5 separate regions of the Homo sapiens genome follow, and all the other regions are linked to region 3. Evidence: fine-mapped expression QTL. A gene starts in region 3. Each other region holds a variant in brackets. All regions are shown on one strand. Distances are between the middles of the regions.

What was found. PIP is the estimated chance that this variant, and not a neighbour inherited with it, causes the effect.
Region 1: its variant is the best candidate, but not a certain one, in a credible set for the expression of ATL2 in prefrontal cortex (CommonMind, PIP 0.58).
Region 2: its variant is the best candidate, but not a certain one, in a credible set for the expression of ATL2 in whole blood (TOPMed, PIP 0.58).
Region 4: its variant is the best candidate, but not a certain one, in a credible set for the expression of ATL2 in tibial nerve (GTEx, PIP 0.53).
Region 5: its variant is the best candidate, but not a certain one, in a credible set for the expression of ATL2 in whole blood (INTERVAL, PIP 0.73).

Annotation. Positions count from the first base shown.
Region 1 is chr2:38,293,235-38,297,741 of GRCh38, reverse strand. It overlaps ATL2 (atlastin GTPase 2), which reads left to right. Exons shown (of 13, transcript NM_001135673.4): 13 at 1,629-3,788. The coding sequence ends at 1,748. Among named protein-coding and RNA genes, the nearest start is that of ATL2, 82 kb to the left of the region's middle. The variant T/A (reference allele first, on the strand shown) is at 2,624.
Region 2 is chr2:38,343,678-38,348,184 of GRCh38, reverse strand. The region is part of intron 1 of ATL2 (atlastin GTPase 2); the gene reads left to right. Among named protein-coding and RNA genes, the nearest start is that of ATL2, 31 kb to the left of the region's middle. RefSeq lists a silencer at 2,892-3,092. The variant A/G (reference allele first, on the strand shown) is at 2,059.
Region 3 is chr2:38,375,349-38,379,855 of GRCh38, reverse strand. ATL2 (atlastin GTPase 2) reads left to right here and starts at 2,583. Exons shown (of 13, transcript NM_001135673.4): 1 at 2,583-2,713. The coding sequence starts at 2,596. RefSeq lists silencers at 2,164-2,213, 2,284-2,443, 2,664-3,163 and enhancers at 2,414-2,663, 2,490-2,989, 2,990-3,491.
Region 4 is chr2:38,426,599-38,431,105 of GRCh38, reverse strand. No RefSeq gene overlaps it. Among named protein-coding and RNA genes, the nearest start is that of LINC01883, 2.4 kb to the left of the region's middle. The variant G/A (reference allele first, on the strand shown) is at 1,895.
Region 5 is chr2:38,251,106-38,255,612 of GRCh38, reverse strand. No RefSeq gene overlaps it. Among named protein-coding and RNA genes, the nearest start is that of CYP1B1-AS1, 120 kb to the right of the region's middle. The variant C/A (reference allele first, on the strand shown) is at 1,893.

The DNA of each region.
Region 1 (4,507 bases), 82 kb after region 3:
TGCAGGAGAAATGCTGGATGGTAGACAGGTCTTCATTGCCTTCCATGAAGATGGTAGTGATTTCCTGATGTACTATGAGGAACAATCCCGTAGGGATTTCTTACCAAGGAAACTTTGACCTTTGTGTTTTGGAAATATTAATTAGTAAAGCAAAGCGCCATGAACAGAGAACCATGCTCCGTCGTAATCTTTTACCTCGAACCAGAATTCAAAGCCCCAGGCTGTGAACTCTTGCCTGCAAGTATCTGCTAAGGAAAGCCATTTTGTGTATCTGCCTCCGGTGTGCTGGAATTACCTGTGGACCGCTTATGGATGTCATTAAGATGATCTTCGTGAAATACTTGAACATCATGTCAAGGACCAGAATGAAAGCTACGGTTATTAATGACGAACGCTATAATAGGCATTTGAGATGCCATTTTTGGGCTCATGAAATATTGAGCTTATTTTGAAGATCTAGGATATGCAGGTCCATGTTTGTTTTGGCTATAAACTTGAAGACCGAAGAAGCAGACCATTTTTTTTGAAGAAAGTTGATTGGATATTGACTTTTCTTGTAATGATGTTATTTTATAAAGTGACCCACTATATTAATTTGGATTTTGTGTTTACTCTTTAGAGAAATGCTCTATTCAGATCCGATTGGGAAGTTTATGTTTGGATATTTATTCTATTTAAATTTTTATCTCAATCTCACTACTTGATGTTTCTTTGATATCTTCTAATAGAAGATGGATGCAAAGCTATCGCAACTTCACTTTTAAGAAAAAATTAGCTATTTTAAAATTTTGGATCATTTTCTGCAATATAATTTTCAATAATTGTACAATATCTTCTTTTGAGAAATATTCATCTCTTAAACAGCATTGATTCTAGGATTTTGGAGGTACCATTATTACAAAACAATTAAATGGAAGAATCTAAAGTGTATAAAATCATTTTCAGTATAGTTTAGGTAAGGTAATCAGCTAGTCAGAGATCTGTGCTGTGTCAACAAACCTTGTCTAAATTTCTTTGCATTTCTCTTTTCTTTTGCTTCAGAGGAGTCCCAGGAAGGTGAGAAACCTACAGTCTCAAATTCTTGTAGTCTTAAACTCTTTAGCTTCGAGGCACTCTGATTCATTCTCCTAACAAATCACTTCATGTTTTAGGTGTTTTCCAAACTGTTTGAAGTTACTAGACGTCGAATGGTTCACCGTGCTCTTTCATCAGCACAGCGACAGAGACTGTCATCCAACAATAACAAGAAGAAAAATTAGACAGTATTTTTAACCTTTTTCTCTATCTGAAGTGTTCACACTTACACATGTAGGACAATAAGCAGGACCGTCTGGGCCGGTCTGCATAAATGCTGTATACATACCAGATTTGATGCTGCATATAGGGTATGGAATTGCACATCCATCTCATAGGAATTGTAAATGGTTTGAATAAGAGGAAAGTAATTTTTGTTGCATTATAAAATGTCTAGTAGCATCATAAGTTTTTTTGAGAGAAGCATCTTTTTATTTCCCATATTCCTGGTTATTTTCATCATTGCTTTGAATTGAATTTTTATATCTATTTTTATATGTAACTCTTTTTTTACCTCATGTTTTTGTTTGTTTTGCACATTTCTCATACCACAGGTATTGAAGCCCCTGGGTGATAATTTGATGGAGGAAAACATAAGGCAGTCTGTAACAAACTCTATCAAAGCAGGCCTGACTGACCAGGTGTCTCATCATGCCAGATTAAAGACAGACTGACAGTTCATCTCCTCACGGACTCCACTCTCTTTTTTTTTCATGCTTGCTGTACAATGAGAACTCAAATAAAAATAAACCAAAGTTTACAATCAACTGTAGAAGTAGTTTAGTGTAACTGGCTTCACAGATGGCTGCCACAGAGTGTGAAGATTGTTTGTTAGTTTTAAGCATTCTTTTAATGGCTCCTAAGACATGCAGATGGACTGAGGAGCATTGGTTAATCATGCACCTTTGTGCCATGTTTAACTCTTTTATTTCTTTTTACTTAATCTAATGTTAGTGAATTTGTCTTATGTAAAAGGATATTTCAGGGAAATATTTTCAGAAATCTATTTAGAGTCTCTTTAACACAGTGTCCCATTGAAATTTTAATTTTTAGAGAATTTATGAATCACTGTTTCAAGAACCAGATTGGAAAGACAATGAAGCCTTTATTGAGCCACTACATTAAAAGTATATATTGCTTTACTGCCTTCAATACCAGTATTACATCAATGCATGTATCAGAAACTTCACAGAAATTACATGGCAACTCTTGTAGCTAAGAAAGTAATTCTGAGGTGTACATTTGTCTTGCCTTTTTAAATTTATAAACTTGCCCTAAAAGGAGATGCATATCTGGGAAACTGAACTGTCTTTTTGCAGTTTAGCCTTCATGTATATAAAATATGCCATTAATTTTATTGGGGAAGAAATTCCATCCAAAAATGTTGCCTACAGCTATGAGTTAAGAGTGTCTGTACAGTGTGTAGCTTTTATTTTCTAAAATCACAGATAGGGCATGTATATGACTTATAAATATATAAATACGATTTTGTATTAAAAGTTTTGTAGTTTATGGCAAAATCTGGTCCTGTGGTAGGCTAAATAAGTAC[T/A]GTCCCTGTGAAAGGAATGTTTGTGGCTCATGTCAGTGTGTGAATGCATAGACAATTTGAAGTTTTTGATATATTTGTGATATTTATCTTGAGCACTGCAATCTCACCCCCCCCCCGCCCACCAAGGGAATTCAATGGGAATGTTTATTGTGACTTTGTCCTCTGTTGCATTTTAAAGTTATTTCCTGTAATTTATTTTCAGTACATAATTAAAAATTTGTTGTATATATAAAATGAAACTTGTGATTCTTTTTTAAGGAATTTTTCAAGTATGTATTCCACTTCATAAACCACATTTGTTTATAGTGAAAAGAGCATGAGCAGGAAACACCCCAGTTGAGAGCTCTAAGGCATTGTACCTCAAAACTAAGCTTGTAAAAAGTTACTTTTCTGTGTCTGTCTCTATAAGGGAAAACCTATGATTAGCCTAGTTGTAGATGGGGATTGTTAATTTCTTTCTCTCTCTTTTTTTTTTTTTGGTGGTATATGTAAGGCTAGCATTTTTTCAGTACTTTTGTGGTCTTCTTTGTGAACACCGATTAAAGTACCTAGTTTTGTTTGTTTCTTTTTTGAGACGGAGTCTCTCTCTGTCACCCAGGCTGGAGTGCAGTGGTGCGATCTTGGCTCACTGCAACCTCCACCTCCTGGGTTCAAGTGATTCTCCCGCCTCAGCCTCCTGAGTAGCTGGGACTACAGGTGCGTGCCACCATTCCCGGCTAATGTTTTCTATTTTAAGTAGAGATGGGGTTTCACCGTTTTAGCCAGGATGGTCTCAATCGCCTGACCTTGTGATCCGCCTGCCTTGGCCTCCCAAAGTGTTGGGATTACAGGCGTGAGCCACCGCGCCCGGCCCTTAGTTTGCTTTTTAAGCGAAGAGAATGCAGGTGTTGAGTTGCATGTGTGAAAACTCTGAATTTACTTTGGTTGATACATCTTCGCTCCCACTCCCATTCAGATTCTGTTTTTATATGGATTGTATTTGTTTTCATCTGTATTAAATTGCTAACTTATCTGTTCTTAAAGAATCCACCTGAAAAGTGTCTTTTTATTTCTTCTGCCACCCTGTTTTATGAATGCTGTGGACTGTTTTTTATGAATGAAAAAATAATTTGTTGTATAATAGCAGATTTTCTGAAATTAAAGACAGCTTACTTTTAAAAAGTTATAAAATCTAGACCATTGGCTTTCTTACATTTCTTGTCAGAAAAGAGTGCTTTACTCAAAGAAGACAATTCTCTACAGGATTTAAGTCCATTTCACACTTTTAAGCTTTAGCCTAAACATTCATGTCCTGGATTCCCTCCTTTCCTCTAACTTGACCAGAATGGATCTGCGCATCTCAGGTTTTTTCCATTCGTGTGATAGTCGTGGAGTGAGGATGAAAATTAGCTTGAGTTGCTGTGCATCTGGTAGCCATCTTCTCACTTGGCCAGAGATTACTCATCAAATGACTATTGTACTTGGATTCTGTTGGGAGCCTCTGCCATAAAGAGAATGCGACTTTGGGGAGTCTTCCAGTTATTGGTTCCTGTCAAAGCTAGATTGGGGGTTTCCCAGGCAGCACAGAGAATTGCTCCCTTACCTTCTCTACTGAAGTCTTAGATCCTAGGAACTCCTGTCTTTCAGATTTACATTTTGCTGGAAGTTAGACCGAGGAATTGAGCTGCCCTTAATGTACTCAGTGAAATACAACTTTTATATCCTTTTAGGATCGTGAAATCTGCAGCCAAATGTATCAGCTGAATAGGTCCAAACTGCCTAGAGATACACATGAAAGGGCTTAGGGGAGGGAAGTCACAGCCTTTGCATAGCTCAATAAGGCACCTCCATACGTATGTTAGTACTCTCCATACTCATGGCAGTCCTGTGTGATAGATAGGAAAC
Region 2 (4,507 bases), 32 kb after region 3:
AAGCTTCATAATTTTTATGGAATTTTTGTGTTACGTATACTTAATACTCTTGAGTTGTCGGAGGTATTTCCCCAAGCTATTTGATTATCATATTTGCTTATAAACTAGGTAAGGGCAGGGCCAGGCATAGTGGCTCATGCCTGTAATCCTAGTACTTTGGGAGGCTGAGATGGGTGGATCACCTGAGGTCAGGAGTTTGAGTCCAGCCTGGCCAACATGGGGAAACCTTGTCTCTACTAAAAATACAAAAATTAGCTTGGCGAGGCATTGGGCATCTGTTGTTCCAGCTACTCTGGAGGCTGAGACAGGAGAATGGCTTGAACCCAGGAGGCAGAGGTTGCAGTGAGTCGAGATCTCACCACTGCACTCCAGCCTGGGTGACAGAGCGCTCTGCCTTAAAAAAAAAAAAAAAAAAAAGGTAAGGGCAGATGTAAGACTCCTGAGTAAAATGCTTAAATTTCATTCATTCAGGAAATATTTACAAGGAACCTGCTAGGCTAGGTGTCAGGCACTGTTGTAGGTGCTGGTAGAGAATGGTTAACAGGGTGATTGGGATCCTTACTTTAGTGGCACACTCATTCTGTGGAGTGGGAGATATCAGGTACACATTTAAACGAATGAAAAAAGGTTGTTTTAGGAATTGAAAAAAACTATGAATAAACCTGTTTCATTAAAGTGTTAAGGAAAGGGATCTGTGATTTAGATTGAGTGGTCAGGGAGGGCCATGCTGAGGAGATAACATTTGAGCTGAAGAGCTGGATGATGGAGACATAAGCCATGTGAATTTCTAGGGACAGAGCATTCCAGATAGGGGACAACACAGGACAAAAATTCTAAGGTGGGAAACAGGGTTAGCTTCATCAGGGAACAGCAAGAAGGCCAGATTGTCCAGGCTTTGGGAATGAATAGGAGTGTGTTGTAAGATGACATGTGCTTTATAAGGCCCTCTGCTATGGAGAGGAGGCTGGGCCCAGATCGCATACGACTATAGAAGCCATGGTAAGGTATTTAAGGGCTTTCTTCTTTTGTTTGTCTATTTTCTGCTTATGATGGGAAACTAAGTGGTAAATTGGCAATCCAAGAGGGGAGACATTTAATAAATAAGTACTTACATAAATATTCAAGTGATAGATTAAAATTTGGGGAGTATAGAATGACTAAACTTGGTTGGAAGCCTCAGGGAAGATTCTTGTTCCTGGAAAGTGTCTTTTAAGCTGAGATTTAAGGAGTAAGTGTGAATTTATTAGGAAACAACAAAGGAAAGAGTACTCTAGGCAGAGGAATATTAAAGCAGAGTCTAGAAAGAGCTTAGCAGCATGAGGATCTGATGAAAGGTTAGTTTGGCTACCTAGTTTAAACCTGGGGTTCCCAACCCTAGGGCCGTGGACTGGTACTCGTCCGTGGCCTGTTAGGAACTGGGCCGCACAGCAAGAGGGGAGTAGCAGGCGAGCGAGCATTACTGCCTGAGCTTCGCCTCCTGTCAGACCCATGGTGACATCAGATTCTCATAGGAGCGCGAACCTTATTGTGAACTGCACGTGTGAGGGATCTGGGTTGTGTGCTCCTTATGAGAATCTAACTAATGCCTGATGATCTGAGATGGAACAGTTTTATCCTGAAACCACTGCTCCCCCTTCTGTGGAAAACTTGTCTTTCATGAAACCAGACCCTGGTACCAAGAAGGTTGGGGACCGCTGGTTTAAAGAGAAGAATAGCACCAAAAGAGGCAACAGAGATTGGCGGTGAGTACGGGACCTTATAGAGCATGTGTAGGATTTTAGTCATTAGTCCTCTGTAACAGTGATTTTAAGGAGGGTAACCTGGTCAACTTTACATGTAACTATATTATTTAGTTGCTACTCTGTGGAGATTAGATTGGATTGGGTAAGAGGACAAGAGTATTAATGAAGGGAAACCAGTTAGATGCTACAGTGTGAGGTACTGTGGCAGTGACAAGTGCAGGAATATTATCAATAGAGATTCAGAAATGAAGACAAATTAAGAAGGTGGTTATTGATTAGATTTAGGGGTAAGTAAAAGACACGTAGACGTATCTCT[A/G]TATGTCAAGGACAGCCAGCAAGTCTGTGCCAGAGCAGATGGGTGGATGGCAGTGTCAGTACGCAGCTACACTGGTCAAGTGAAAATCACCATAGCATTTTGGCATTTCAAGGGGAAAATAAAAGCTTCTCCTGTTGGATTGGTTATTTTGAAATTACTGTTAACTTACACCTATGGTGCTTACTGCGTAGCATACATATTTCAACTCATTGAATCCTGATGACAACCCTATGAGTTAGGTAATGCTATGCCTGTTTGACACACACCCATTTTCCAGATGAGAAAACAGGTGCAGAGAAGTTAAGTGACATGCATCGAGGCAGTTTGCTCCCTACTTCATGGTCTTAAACCACTAATTAAGCTTAGAAACTTATACCGTTTGCATCCTGTTTTGTTATTTATCTGGACCTACCTAATGAGACGTTAATTTAGAATTTAACTGTATTGCAACTTTTCCTGGAAAGTTCACTTTTTGCATGCATTCAAATAGCATACCTGACTATTGCTATATACCATTGATACAGGCAGTGATAATGTCCCCTTTAACTAAATATTGATTGCTTTTACTTTCAAAGATTCTCCTTTGAAGTGGCTTGCTCTTTATAATGCATTGTCATTGTTTTCAGCACATTTTGAAATAGTGCTGTTGACTTTGCTATATACAGTTAAAGGTGCCTCGTGATGTGGAGGTAGAGGCTCTAATAGTCTTTGCAAATCAGATAAGTGAGATGCTTCTTTTGGTAATAAGATTAAAAATCCACTAATGTAGTTATATAATCTTTGCTCTGTGAATATTGGTTATGTGGATAAGGTATTACTGAACTGTTCACTAATAATGTACCACGCCTTAGTGGACTGGCTTTCTCCTCAGAGTAGGACAGTCATTGATTGCATTGAAAACAGTGGATACCGTATGTGTCCTTAGAGTGGAAACTGACACTTAGTAGACAGGCTCAAGGAGGGGATCTCTTAGAAATTTTGATGTGGGAGAAGATAAGGTCCCCAGGAGTAACTAGTTGCTACGTGGGATCAAGCAGTTGGTAGAGAAGAAAGTCAGACAAGGTATGTGTCCTCTGAAGCTAGGTGTTTTTTTTAAAGAAGAACAGAAACCTAGACTTTGGAAGTTTATCTCTGCTATTTACATTCTCTGTACTTCTTCGTCACTATTCAGTAAAGTTATGTCTGCAAAGGTTACCTTATTTTAATGTGTTGTGGTGAACAAAGGAAGGGTTTATATGGCTGTTTTCGGGAGCTATAACAGCTGTAGTGTTTGGTGAGAAAGAGCTCCAGTGGGAGATGAAATTCTGAGATATAAATGCATCTCACTGACTCTTCTTTAATGAAACATTAATCCTGTGCTTTGCTTTAATGAGGAGGCTGTAGTAGTACTAGGTTACTGTTATTAAATTAGGGACTCATTGTAAGTATCATTTTTGGAAACTTGTTAGAACCCTAATTTTCCCCTTTAAGTTTCAGAATGAAAAATAACATGAATAATTTTTTTTTGTTTGTTTTTTGAGACTGAGACTCACTCTGTTGCCCAGGCTGGAATGCAGTGGTGCAATCTCAGCTCACTGCAACCTCTGCCTCCCAGGTTCAAGCGATTCTCCTGTCTCAGCCTCCCAAGTAGCTGGGACTACAGGCGCCCGCTACCATGCCCAGCTAATTTTTGTATTTTTAGTAGAGACGGGGTTTCCCCATGTTGGTCAGGCTGGTCTTGAACTCCTGACCTCAGGTGATCTGCCTGCCTCGGCCTCCCAAAGTGTTGGGATTACACCCACTGCACCCAGCCACATGAACAATTTTAATATATGTTTTTAATGTTTGTAAAGTAGAGTAATGTTTGTGAATTTTCTAGGTGATGCTTACAGGGAAAATTGGGATTTGAAGTATCAGGTGAAATTGATTTTTCCCCTCTTTAGTTTATGTGTGCATACAGTTGGAAAAGTTATTTACAGAATAATACAGGGCTCAGAAACAGGTGCTGTTGACATGAACATTCTCAATGAAGTTAAGACTTCATTGAGATAGAGGCCATATTTAGTATTATTGTTTATCTGTATGTATAATGGTGTATGAGTCCATTTTCATGCTGGTAATAAAGACATACTTGAGACTGGGCAATTTACAAAAGAAAGAGGTTTAATGGAATCAAAGTTTCACGTGGCTGGGGAGGTCTCACAATCATGGCGGAAGGTGAAAGGCACATCTCACATGGTGGCAGATGAGAAGAGAGCTTGTGCAGGGAAACCTCTTATAAAATCATCAAATTTCGTGAGACTTATTCACTATCATGAGAACAGCACAGGAGAGAGCCTCCCCCATGATTCAGTTACCTCCCACTGGGTCCTTCCCACAACATGTGGAAATTGTGGGAGCTACAATTCAAGATGAGATTTGGGTGGGGACACAGCCAACCATATCAAGTGGGAAATCTTATCAGCATTCT
Region 3 (4,507 bases):
GACTTTTTTCCGGACAGCAAAAAATTAATTAATTAATTCTTTTTTTTTTTGAGCTGGTGGTGTTAAGCAGCAGTCTTTTTTGAATGGTATTGCTCCTTGCGGAGTAGGGCTAACTCACAGGCAGTGTACCCAGGGTCAGCCTATTTTTTTTTTTTTTTGAGATGGAGTCTCACGCTGTCATCCAGGCTGGAGTGCAATGGCACGATCTCAGCTCACGGCAACCTCCACCTCCCAGGTTCAAGTGATTCTCCCACCTCAGCCTCCCGAGTAGCTGGGATTACAGGCACCCGCCATCATGCCAAGTTAATTTTGGTATTTTTGTGGAGATGGGGTTTCACCATGTTGGCCAGGCTAGTCTTGAACTGCTGACCTCAGGTGATCGCCCCACCTCGGCCTCCCAAAGTGCTGGGATTACAGGCATGAGCCACCACACCCAGCCTTTTTTTTTTTTTTTTAAATAAGCGTTTGACCTCTCTTGATTCAGGCATAGTAACCACAGATGGGGGAGAGAGTGGGTTTGGGAGCCAAGATAGGCAGAACACCAAAAAGAGAAGAACATAGGCAAGGAAAAAAAAAAGAAAAGAAAAGAGAAAAGCAAAGCAAAACACGAAACACATGGGGTAGCAGCCTAGATTAGTAGATAGAATTGAAGTCCTTAAAATCGAAGGCACAGTGAGGGAAACCATAAGGTCTTTTATTACATGTAAGATATTCAATATCTTCCAAAGGACTGCCTATACTAAGCATAGAGGGTGATTTGGCTTAGGTGAACACTGCACTTTGGTAAGGATTCAGGTAGCTTTTTGTTGTCACTGACTGTATCAACCTTAATTTAGCAAATGGCCTATGCTGTGCTGTTTGTAAATGGTTTCTTTTTTCTATGTGCCTAAGCAAATGTTTTTTAGTGAGTAAATGACAGTAAATAAATCTTTGTAGAACAATCCTCGTGAAGATTTTTTTGCCCTTCTTCTCCTCCTCCTCCTCCTTCTTCTGCTTCTGCTTCTTCTTTTTCTTCCTTTTCAATACTACGTTTTTCAGGCCAATGATAAAACAGAAAATGTCTTGACAAAGTGAGCTCTCCAAATCATATATCACAAGGACGTAAGAGGAATATCACTTAACAAGTTGATAAAGATCCTGCCATCAATATGAACGAGGGGGAAGGGTAACTGTACTTTAGATTGTGGAGGTGGTTCAAGTCCCAGAACTAGAATCTTAGTAACTCAAAGAATATTGCCAAGAACACGTATATAGTTATTCTCCTAGATTTATGTGACAATGATGACAAACTCCATATTCTGTTGAAATATATTTGGATGGGCCGGGCGCAGTGGCTCACGCCTGTAATCCCAGCACTTTGGGAGGCTGAGGCGGGTGGATCACGAGGTCAGTAGCTCAAGACCAGCCTGGCCAAGATGGTGAAATCCCGTGTCTATAAAAATACAAAAATTAGCAGGGTGTGGTGGCGGGGGACTGTAATCCCAGCTACTCCGGAGGCTGAGGCAGAGAATTGCTTGAACCCGGGAGGCGTGAGCCACCATGCCCTACCTAGAATGGTATTTTGAAAGCTTTAATAACACCAGTGCTTTTCTAGAGATTGTGCATGCTGTGAATTTTAGACTTATGAAAAGACCTGGACAAAACAGCTGTTTGTACACCCGGACATCTGTTTTTACTGGAGAAGAGGAATTTCTAATGCAGCTGGCAGTATGGTAAAAATCCAAAGGGATCATGTTTCACAGACGCCTCCACGGGCTGACTTGTAATTTAAAAAGTGACCTGAACTTTCTACTGGATGTCACTGGATCCCCAGAAGAAGGTTCATCACAATTAGGTAAGAACCTGCCACGATTCATTTTCCGATTAGAGTGCTTTCTGGCATGCCTCTGCAAGGTGCTAGGAGCACAGGGCCAGGGTATACACAGTTGAGAAGATGGGGGAAGGTCTCATAAGTAGATGGGGAGCGAATGCAAACAAACCTTAGGATGGTGGGGGGGAGGGGAAGCAACAGTAGGGACTTGGGTGAGGAAAGAAAAGATCAAGAGGAAAAGCAGGGCACTGGCAACAACTTGGGGGGTGGATGGGGAGAGAGGAGGGGAATGGCTGTGATGAGGAGGGGGCGATGAAAAGGAGAGAAGGGGTGCGAAAGCCACCTCACGTGCAGGACGCACGAATCAACGATTAGAGATGTAAAGCGAATTGGGAGGGAGGGACTTAGTTCTCTGGAGCTCCCTTCTGCGTTTGCAGAGCCTGGCCCAGCGCTAAGGGGGTGTGGTGCTGAGCTCAGGGAGGTGGGGGTGTGAGACGGCGGCGGCAGGGACACCCCCGCCCCAGTCCAACCAGAAACTTGGAGCCGGGGAGACGGATCTGCAGGCGGGCAGGGCGAGGGCGGAGCGAGCGAGCGATGGGCGGGGCGGGGGCGGAGGGAGGGCGAGGAGATACAGGCGGAGGGCGAGGAGATACAGGCGGAGGGCGAGGAGATACAGGCGGAGAGCGGCGCTAGGACCCGCCGGCCACCCCGCCGGCTCCCGGGAGGTTGATAAAGCGGCGGCGGCGTTTGACGTCAGTGGGGAGTTAATTTTAAATCGGTACAAGATGGCGGAGGGGGACGAGGCAGCGCGAGGGCAGCAACCGCACCAGGGGCTGTGGCGCCGGCGACGGACCAGCGACCCAAGCGCCGCGGTTAACCACGTCTCGTCCACGACCTCCCTAGGTACGGGCCAGCGAGGCAGAGGCCGCGGGGCCCTGATGGGGAGAGACGCTCGCTGCTCGGGCTCGCGGGCACCGGCCGCAGGCGGCGGGGTCGGAGTCCGCGGCTGGTTCAGGTCTCCTCCCGCCGCCGCGCCTGCCCGCCGGGCCTAGCCTCAGCCGCGCCCCGCGCTCCCGCAGCGCGCGGCCTGAAAGGGCGGCTCGTGGGCCGCGGCTCCAGTAGCTGCTGGGAGAACCAGTGGCGCGCGCGTCTGCGACCGGCCCGGCCCCCTGCCCGCCAGCCCGCCGCGTGGCTGCCGCCGTGTCCGCCCCGACCTTAGGGGGCGGCCTTGAGCCGTGGCCGCCTGCCCGGGGCGCGGGGAGGTCGGCTGCGGCTCCGCTCCGTCCGGCGAGCTCCGGACGCGGCGGGGCGACCCGTTAGCTGGTGGGCGTTCGCTGTCCCTTACGCGGACAGGGAGGAAGGGGTGGCCAGGGCATGATGGGCCCCGCGGAGGAGGAGGTCGCGCGGGGAGCAGACACCTTGCTGCCGGGTCCGAAAGCTCCTTAGACACCCTTCCTGGAGGGAACCGCAGTCCGCAGGCCAGGGCTCTGTCCCCGGGCTCGCGTTTCGGGGCTCCTCGGCTCCCGAACCCATTCGCGCGGGTTGTGCGTGGCTAGGGTGCAAGTCTAGATTTTCGTGTCAAACTGGGGTTATGAGCCGTTTACGAGTCACTTGGACGATAGTAAGGCCTGATCACTCTGAAAGTGTCTGTAGTGTGAAGTCACCTGATCCTTGGCTCCCTGGTTTTGCTGAATGTGAGCTCCTACTGTACGTGTACCAGGAGCGCCCCTGCCCCCTCGAAGACGCAGTTGCGTTGGCAGCGCAGTGTATCCCTCTCACTCATAACACCCCTATTTATAGGAGTTTAGCGTTTGATCTCTCACTGTGGTGCGAATTGATCGCATGAAATCCTGATTGAAAATTTTGATGGTACTTAAGAAAGGCATAAAGTTTTTTCAAAGGCTTATAAATAGTAAAAGCCTACGATTTGGTAAGTACGGCCAAGATAAGAGTTTATTATTAAATACAGATACGAGCTCGTGTCTTAAGATTTCTTTTTTTACGGTGTGTAAAGGTTTTGCTGGATAAAATGTAAAGCATTTTGGTATGATGTTAACCACAAGGACTCACTTTAATAGGAAAGTTTATTTGAAATATACTTCATCATTCCTGGTAGTTCTTGGCGCATGTCAGAGGTGATGACAGACTGGAGTTTTGCTAAGGGAAGAAGAAAAGGAAATAAAGCTTATTTTATTATTGTCTGCCAACCAAAACGCTTGACTGTTTGTACAGTGGTAGCACTCTGTAGAATAAAAAACTACCAAAGAAGCAGCTTCGCCTTAGATGTGTGCTGGTTGGATTTCTTAAGTAATTAATTGTTTTGGAATGCGGATGGATTAATTTCGCTCTTTTGGTTGGACCCTAGGGGAAGAAGTGTGTGTTCTTTTCTTTCTTTCTCTTTCTTTCTTTCCTTTTTTTGAGGTAAGAGTTTTAGATGCAGTTTCAAAATATTCTATGTATTTACCTTATTAGAAGAAACATAAATTTATACTTCAGTTATGGTTGTGAACGTTGTTGTGCTGTGGTATCTTGAGAAGAGATGATACTCTTCAGATTGTTGTTGAAATAGGGCCCACCATTTATTATTTAATAAATGCTTTTGTCTGCTACTCATAGGTTTTTGTCCTTTGTTTTTTAGGACGGATCAGCAAGACCTTCACTTGATAGCCATTCCTAGCAAATGATTGCCTAAAACAG
Region 4 (4,507 bases), 51 kb before region 3:
CACTCTCACGGTGGTGCAAGAGCCTCTCTGCATGTTACGCTGTTAGCCCCTCATCTGCCTCACCCCAGACCCAGCTCTAAGGCAGGAAGCGGGAGGGCAGCGGAAGGGGAAAAATTCCATCCTAGCTGCAGGGCTAAATCTAGAATTTATTCCAAGTTAAATGTAGATGGAATGCTAATATGCCAGTCTTAGCCTGCCTTAGGCAGCGAGTCCGGCTCAAAGACCAATGACCTTGCAAGCGGAGAAGGCCATCGCTCAGAGCCCCCCATGGACGCCGACGCCGACGCTGAGGAATGTTCAGCCTTTCTCCCTCCCACTGTAGCCCCCTGCTTCACCAGCCTAACGGAGCCTCTGAGCAAAGGTGGCCCCTAGAGAGGCACAGAATAGCGACTCCTCAGAAGGGGCAAGTCTAAATGTTTCTTTTTCTTTTTTTTGACTTGAGACCTTGCTTCAGAAATAAGCTTGAGTCCTGAGGCTTCGCATCGCTCCTAGAGTACAGGGCAGGAAGTGTGACTTCAGAGCATGGGAAAGTAAGTCTCTCCTCTTCTTTGTGGAAATGTTCAACTTCATGGTCCACTCTGGCTGCGGAGTTCATAATTAGAGCTTTATACCCTTTGCCTAATGTGAACTGCAGATTCCTTGGGGGAGTTAGCGTACATTGAACCATATTAGTTCTTACTGAGAGCTGGAATGCCTGCCCCAACGCTGTGTGAAACAACCTCACACCCCTGCGGGCGCGACTTGCGTCCCTTCACTGCTGAGATGAGTGTTAGGCCCTCCTGACCTGAGGCAAAGCTCTTTTCACCATCTGCATCTGATAATCAATTATCATGTGTTATCCTGTGACTTCACTGTATTGTTTTACTGAAATGTATTAATGTTCAATGCAACATGGAATCCTGGACTAAAGAACATTAGTGGAAAAACTGGTGCCGTCCGAATAAGAGTCTGTAGTTAATAGTATTGTAACAATATTGATTACTTTTTCTTTCTCTTTTTTTTTGAGACGGAGTCTCGCTTTGTCCCCCAGGCTGGAGTGCAATGGTATGATCTTGGCTCACTGCAACCTCTGCCTCCCGGGTCCTAGTGATTCTCCTGCCTCAGCCTCCTGAGTAGCTGGGATTACAGGTGCCCGCCACCACATCCAGCTAATTTGTGTATTTTTAGTAGAGACGGGGTTTCAACATGTTGGCCTGGCTGGTCTGGAACTCCTGACCTCAGGTGATCCACCCACCTCGGCCTCCCAAAGTGCTGGGATGATAGGCATGAGCCACTGTACCCAGCTAACGACACTGATTTCTTAGTTTAGACAAATGTACCCTGGTTGAATAAGATGTTAACATTAGGAGAGGCTGGGGGGCAACTATATGGGAGCTCATTGAGCTATCTCTGCAACTTTTTTATAAATTTAAAATTATTCCAGGCCAGACGTGGTGGCTCACGCCTATAATCCCAGCACTTTGGGAGGCCGAGGCGTGCAGATCGCTTGAGGCCAGGAGTTTGAGACCAGCCTGGGCAACATGGCAAAACCTCATCTCTACTAAAAATACAAAAATTAGTGGGGCATGATGACACATGCCTATAATCCCAGCTACTCTGGAGGCTGAGGCAGGAGAATCGCTTGAACCCAGAAGGCAGAGGTTGCAGTGAGCCGAGATCGCACCACTTCACTCCAGCCTTTTAAAATGCACTTTTATAAATATCTTTGACAAAATGCCTTTAAAATGTCTTTTCTGGTGTGTGTGTGTGTGTGTGTGTGTGTGTGTGTGTGTGTGTGTTTGAGTTTCCTTCAGATAACTGAGCTTGTTTTCACATGAAGCGAAAATCTGCTCATGCATATTGTTTGGGAAAGTCTTGTTTTCTTAGAGGTCTGGAGGCTCTAAAAAATACCTAC[G/A]GCTTCCTTCTATTCATTTTATATATTTTGGTTCAAAGATTTCGTAATTCCATCCCCACCCTGGCTATTCCCTAGGGTTATGAGAGAAAAAGAAAAATATTTTGTAAAGAGCAGGGATTGTATTCTTTTCTTGGCATGTTCCCCTACAGAGCACTGTGTATACTTAAGCCTCTGTATAAATAAGTGACACAAATATAGATGTTATGGGGGAGGGTTCATCTTGCCTGATGGCTTTCTGGGGCCCAGCGCAACTGTTTTGTTCACGTGTTTATGAATTGAGGCTAGCTTGGGCTTTGAATTAGGACCAGGAAGAGATGTAAACACCCACCATATTGATTGTCACACGTGACCATTTTTTGGAATTTGAGGAAGAAGATGATGAAAAGGGAAGGGGAAAAGAAGAAAAACTGGTGGCCGGGCAGTGTGGCTCACGCCTGTAATCCCAGCACTTTGGGAGGCCAAGGTGGGTGAATTACTTGAGGTCAGGAGTTTGAGACCAGCCTGACCAACATGGTGAAACCCCCGTCTCCATTAAAAATATAAAAATTAGCGTGACGTGGTGGCGGGCGCCTGTAATCCCAGCTACTCAGGAAGCTGAGGCAGGAGAGTCGCTTGAACCCAGCAGGCGGAGGTTGCAGTGAGACAAGATCACGCCATTGCACTCCAGCCTGGGCAACAGAGGGAAACTCTGTCTCTAGAAAAAGAAAAAATAGAAGAAGGAGGGTGGGCACTGTGCCTCATGCCTGTAACTCCAGCACTTTGGGAGGCCCTGGCGGGAGGAATGCTTGAGCCCAGGAGTTTGAGACCAACCTGGGCAACATAGCGAGACCTTGTCTTAATTTAAAAAAAAAAATAGAAGAAGGAGATAGGGTTGCAAGAGCCCTAAAAAAGGTGAAGGCTCAGTCGAAAGTGCATCCAGTTTCCTGGGGATCCTGTTGAAATGCAGATTCGGATTCAGTAGGCCTCTAAGGGCTGGGATTCTTCCCGTCAAACCAGCTCCCAGTGAGGCTGCTGCTCCAGGGACCTCACTGGAGAAGTAAGGCCCGGCACAGACTGTACCTTCAAAGCAGTAGTGCAATGGCACTCTCTGTCACTGCTGCTACTCTTGACTTCTGGTTCTCTCTAGCACCTCCCAGATCACTGTTACCGCCTGGATCACTGCCAGTGCTTTTTTTTTTTGGGACATGATGTCAAAAATGCGAAAGCTTTACAAAGCTTCCTTCAACATTGCATAGGGGAAATCTTCTCTTCCAAAGTCTCTCCAGTAGCTTCTTTTTCCCTTCTACCATGATTTTTTATTTCTTGGTCTCATTTCCAGTCCTTTCTCAGTTTGAATCTCTCATTCATTCAATTCTCTGGCCTCCTCTCTCTATTCAAACTAGTTTTATTTCTCTAGAGATTTTTTTGTTTTTGGAGATGGGGGGGATCTCGCTATGTTGCCCAGGCTGGTCTTGAACTCCTGAGCTCAAGAAATCCTCCCACCTCAGCCTCCCGAGCAGCTGGGACTACAGGTGTGTTTCATCATTCCTGGCTAATCTAGAGATTTTAATGCATAGTCTGCACCAAGAATAGTTTCCACCTTTTCTTTTTGGTCCCACCCGGGAACGAAATTAGCATCTCTTAATGGTGGGTAAAATTAGAGTAGACTCAGTGTTTAGTTTTCGTTCATTTCCCAGGCCACTTCTTTATGAAGTAACCTCCATCACAATGTATAGTTTCTAGAAAGTCTGAAGGAGCACTGATGTTTTCCCTCGAATGCAGTTTCTATGTCACCGTGGTAAAGAAGAATTTTCAGGCTTGCAGTCAAGGACAGCCTTTCAAATTCTCTTTGGATGAAACTAATCCCCAAGGCTGCCCAACCTCCCTGTAACTAAGAAGTTTACAAGGCCAAATATTTGATGCACTGGCCTGAAAACAATGATTTGGATGTCAGTCACTGACGACACATCATAATGCTTACCACCACCCTTCCAAACCCACTCCGGACCAGTAAACAGTGATTATGCTGACAGAGCTGAAACAAACCTTTACATCCGTAAGTATCCATTTAACTCCTGAAACCTTAAAGCTTGGCTTGGTGATCATCTCATTAGATTTTTCTGCAGGGTGCCGATACCAAAATGATACAGTATTATTTAAAAGTGGCTTATGTACCATTCTATCAAATGAAACTGTCTATAAACTGGTATTTGCACAAATTTATGTTGTAATGGTAAATGATACTTATCATGAAGAGCCTGGAGCACTCACTTAACTGCCTTCTGAATCATGCAAGAAAGCTGCAATATTTGTATAATATTTTATGGTGTTAAATATATTTGAAGTTAATTCTTGGGAAATTGGCTATCTATGCCTAATAATACCTTAAACTGGCAGATTTATTTCCAGCTTATCCCGCATTTTCAGCAAGAACATTTTATAAACCATATTTTAAAACTGAAGGAATTGAGATGAAGGGACTTGCCCAAAGTCCATAGGTGGTAGTAAGTGGAAAATCAGGACAAGAACCCAAGCCTTCTGTTTTCTTTTATATGGTTCTTTGTTTGCTTAACCAGAACATCCATTCCTCTTACAATTACTAATAGATAAAGTTAACTGAGTGTAATCCTGGGC
Region 5 (4,507 bases), 120 kb after region 3:
TAAATATGGAAATTAGGGTGACATAAGAGAATGTAAATATTATTTTCCTTGATGATATGAACCATATGTAACTAACAAAAGTTGGAAAGTAACAAGAGAAAGAAGGTGAAAAGTTATATAAGTGCTTACTATAATTGCTACATTAAAGCAGGGATGGGCAAGTTACCGCTCACAGGCTTAATCTAGCCCACCACCTGTTTTTGTATAAATAAAGTTTTATTGGAACACAGCCATGTTCATTTGTTACAGATTGTTTATGGCTGCTTTCATGCTATAACGGCAGTTAAGTTGTCGTGATAAAGATTGAATCACAAAGCCTAAAATATTTACTATTTAATCTTTTACAAAATAAATTTGTTGACCCCCTGGGATAAAGGATGCTATTTAAAACTGACAAATTAAGTAGTAAAAGTGTATGTAACAATTCTAAGGTAAACACTAAAAGAGTGTCAGGTGTAGTGGTTCACATGTGTAATCCCAAAACTTTGGGAGGCTGAGGCAGGCAGACTGCTTGAGCCTAGGAGTTCCAGACCAGCCTGGGCAACATGGCGAAACCCTGTCTCTACAAAAAATACAAAAACTAGTCAGGCGTAGTGGTATGTGCCTCTAGCCCCAGCTTTCCGGAAGCCTGAGGTGGGAGGATCGCTTGGGTCTGGGAGGTGGAAGCTGCAGTGAGCCGTGACTGTGCCACTGTACTCCAACCTGGGTGACATAAGGAGACCCTGTCTGAAAAAAAAACCAAGAAACAAAACAAACAAACAAACAAAAAAAACACTAATAAAAGAGTGATCAGGAGTAGAGAAAGGGAGGAAATAGAATGATTATTGATAGCAGCAACAGGAGGCAGCCAAATGCCTAGGCAGACAAGGGTGGGTCCCCAGTGAAACCCAACCTTCAAGCCAAAAACAGCCTGAGGGCTGAAAGACTGGACTGCTGCTGGTCCAGGATGAAACCCACAACCCAGAGTGAGAACTTCTGTTCTTGTTTGCTCTCCCTTTCCCGATTGATTCTTTCTGAACAATGCCTTTTAACCAATCAAATGTTGCCTTTTCCAATATTACCTATGGCCTGCCCCTCCCCCATTCTGAACCCATAAAAGCCCCGGACTCAGCCACATTGAGGGGACTCTCTCGCCTTCAGGTAGGGAGACCCCCCCCCCCGCCGCCATGTCCCCTCTCCATTGAAAGCTGTTTCATCACTCAATAAAACTCCCCACCTTGCTCACTCTGATTGTCAGCACATCCTCATTCTTCTTGGCACAGGACAAGAACTGGAGAACTCAAGAAGTGCGCAAGTCGGGGCTGGCCCCAGGCAGGCCAAGTGGGAGGGCTATCTCCTGCAGCAGGTAGTGTGGTTAAGCAAGGCCCAGGCAGGGTGTCACTGGCTAGAGGTCCCCGGCTTGCAAAGTGACAAAGATGAAAATCCTGTGTCATTATTTTTACTGATCACAGGAGGGAACTGATAGATCTTACGAATATAGAGTTATAGGGTATCTGATGAAGTCTGAATTATAAAAGTAGCCTCTAGGATAAAAACACACATGTTTTTAATTATGAGAAGAAACATACAACACAAATACAGCAGATTCTATATAATAAAATATTTACAAAGGCAATAAAAACAAAAACATAAAAATGAGACACATTGCTTTTATCAATTAAACAAAAAGACTTTTAGATATATCACAAGACAAAACCCAATTTTATGACATATATAAGAGAGTAACTAAAATTTAAAAATTCAGGAAGACTGACTAAAAAAATGGCTAAATGCCAAATGTTGAAAATAATATCAACATTTTCAAGCAAAAAAATAAGGAGAAATGGGAAAAAGCATTTTAATATTAGGCCATTTTAACGTATATATGTAGGTCTCTGAAAGAGCAAATGAAC[C/A]AAAATAAATATGGGTATGACAGATGTAAACAATGTAAAAGATATACATAATGGAATTATACTAAACATATTGTTCTCCAATCTGCTTTTCCAATTAATATGTATTAAAGATATTTCCATATTATTAACTATAGCTCTATCTTAAAATGAATTGCCTTTTAAGAAACTGCAATAGGCTGGGAGCAGTGGCTCATGCCTGTAATTCCAGCACTTTGGGAGGCCAAGGCAGGTGGATCACCTGAGGTCAGGAGTTCCAGAACAGCCTGGCCAACATGGTGAAACCCTGTCTCTACTGAAAATACTAAAATTAGCCAGGTATGGTGGCAGGCGCCTGTAATCCCAGCTACTCGGGAGGCTGAGGCAGGAGAATCGCTTGAACCTGGGAGGCGGAGGTTGCAGTGGGCCGAGACTACACCACTTCACTCCAGCCTGGGCAACAGAGCAAGACTCTGCCTCAAAAAAAAAAAACAAAAAAACCCAAAACAAAAAAAACCCCACAAAACCTGCAATAAAGTAATAAAGTAGAGTTGACCCTTGAACAACATGGGTTTGAACTGCAAGAGTCCACTTATACTTGGGTTTTTCTAAACCAAATGTGGATGGAAAATACAGTATTCTTGGGTAGTGAAACCCACCTATCCAGAGGGCCAATTTTTCTTATATGTGAATTCTGCTGGGCCAGGCTGCAAGACTCAGATTTTGGTATACATGGGGTTCATGGAACCATCCTCTGCATACCAAGGGATGACTATATATTTTTTGAAAGTTTACAAATGAGATTTACAAAGAGTTGTGGAAACTAAATAAATTTGAAACTTCACATTCCTCTTGGCAAATCATTGCTTACTTGGATTTTGTTTTTTAAAATCATGTTAAGCTTTTTGGGGGGGTTTATATTTTGTGGTACTAACGGAGGCAATTGTGTCATCTCAGCAAGGCATAATGCCTCATCTTATTTGCAGGGTAAAGTGGGATTGAGGCGAACCATGAGCCATGGGGTAGGAGGACAGATCTGACCCTTGGGATAGCTGGAGTGGGAGCAGAATGCCCAGTTGAATGCTGTGTGGCAGCAGGAGAGTAGAGAAGGTGATGAGGATCAGGTAACGAGGCAAGCAAAAAAGATGCCAAGTGATGGTGATGTAGACAATGATGAAAATGGCATTAGCTATCATTCTGAGAATTTATTACAAGCCAAATATTGGATGAGGCACGTGACCACAGAACTCAATATAATACATACAAATCTGAATAGATTTTCACAAACCCTGTGCATGTGTTGCTTATGTAAATTAAAGAATTCAAGTCTATTTCCCAAAAGTGATATTCCTAGGCACTGTTTTTCAGCCTTTCAGAAACTATGGTGTATTTAACTGTGTACAAGACAGATAAGGCTTAAAAAGTGAAATATTTTATGATGATCATGTGATTTTTTTTTTTTTTTTTTTTTCTGAAAACGTTAGGATTCCTAGATTGGTTTCCCTAGGAATTGCCCTCTGAGACAGACATTTGCACTCAGGTACTTTTTGAGGAGCAACAGCTATGAGCCTTGAGGCACCCAAGGCTGGGCAGGAAGAGGAAGTGAACTATGATGCAGTAGTAACAGAGGTCTCAGCCAATCTGCAGGGAGCTTTGCAGCTGGGATGACCCTTTAAACATGTCCTGAACTGAATCAAAGGGGCCATGCCTTCATACCTTTGCAGCCAACAATCATTATATGTGAACTCCAGTGGGGAAAGAACATAACCTTTGGCCTAGCACAAATCCTGGGTAGGGGACCCCCTTGGCCAACACAATTCCTATAAGCCATCAGCAGCTGACATTCCTGGAAGATGATGGAATGAGTGTCTTGGTCCTGACAGGGACATCTGAATGGTCTACCACATCATCCACTAGAGTCTATCTTTTGGTTTTTTGGATCCGTTTGCTCTGCATAGTAAGTCTGCTCCATCTGGGAAAGTTCATCCAGGAACCTGTTTAATCTCTTTTTTTGGGGAAAATTATGATAAGAGGGTTAAAAGGACAAACAACATGCCCTGAAGCTGTGGCTGGTCTCACACCTGCAGAGGTGCTCATTGTCTCCTTTTTCTACCACCCATTGTAGATGCCCCTCAGCCTTGGTCTGCTCCTTTCCTCATCTAGGTGGCTTATCTGGTGAGGTGACCCAGACTCTCACTCTTGAGAGCTCCAAACTCCAGGTCACCATGCCCTCTTCAGGCTGTGGCTGTTGCACTTGCCCATTTATTATTAAAATTGGAAAAGAAGGTACCAAGAGCCACCCAGTGGATCACTTGCATGTCAAACACATTCTTCTCTGTCCTCACTGTGTGAAAGTAGCCTATCTCTTCATGGTAAGAGTCGACTACCCTTGTGAGAATTACACCTCCTTTCCTTCCTGGTCATCTCTTAACATAAGGAGGCTAGCGTGACAGGCTATTTGTAGTTTAAAGTTCGACTCTTGCTGTCACCTTTGGTGGAGATGTTGCCCTCCTGGGAACTGGGACCTCTAGGTATACAGAGCCTAGAGTTGGAGGATGGAAAACACGAATTCTCTAAGTAGGTCACTGGAGATGATTATAATTGGGGCTCCTTCCTCCCTTTCATTTCCATAACCATGT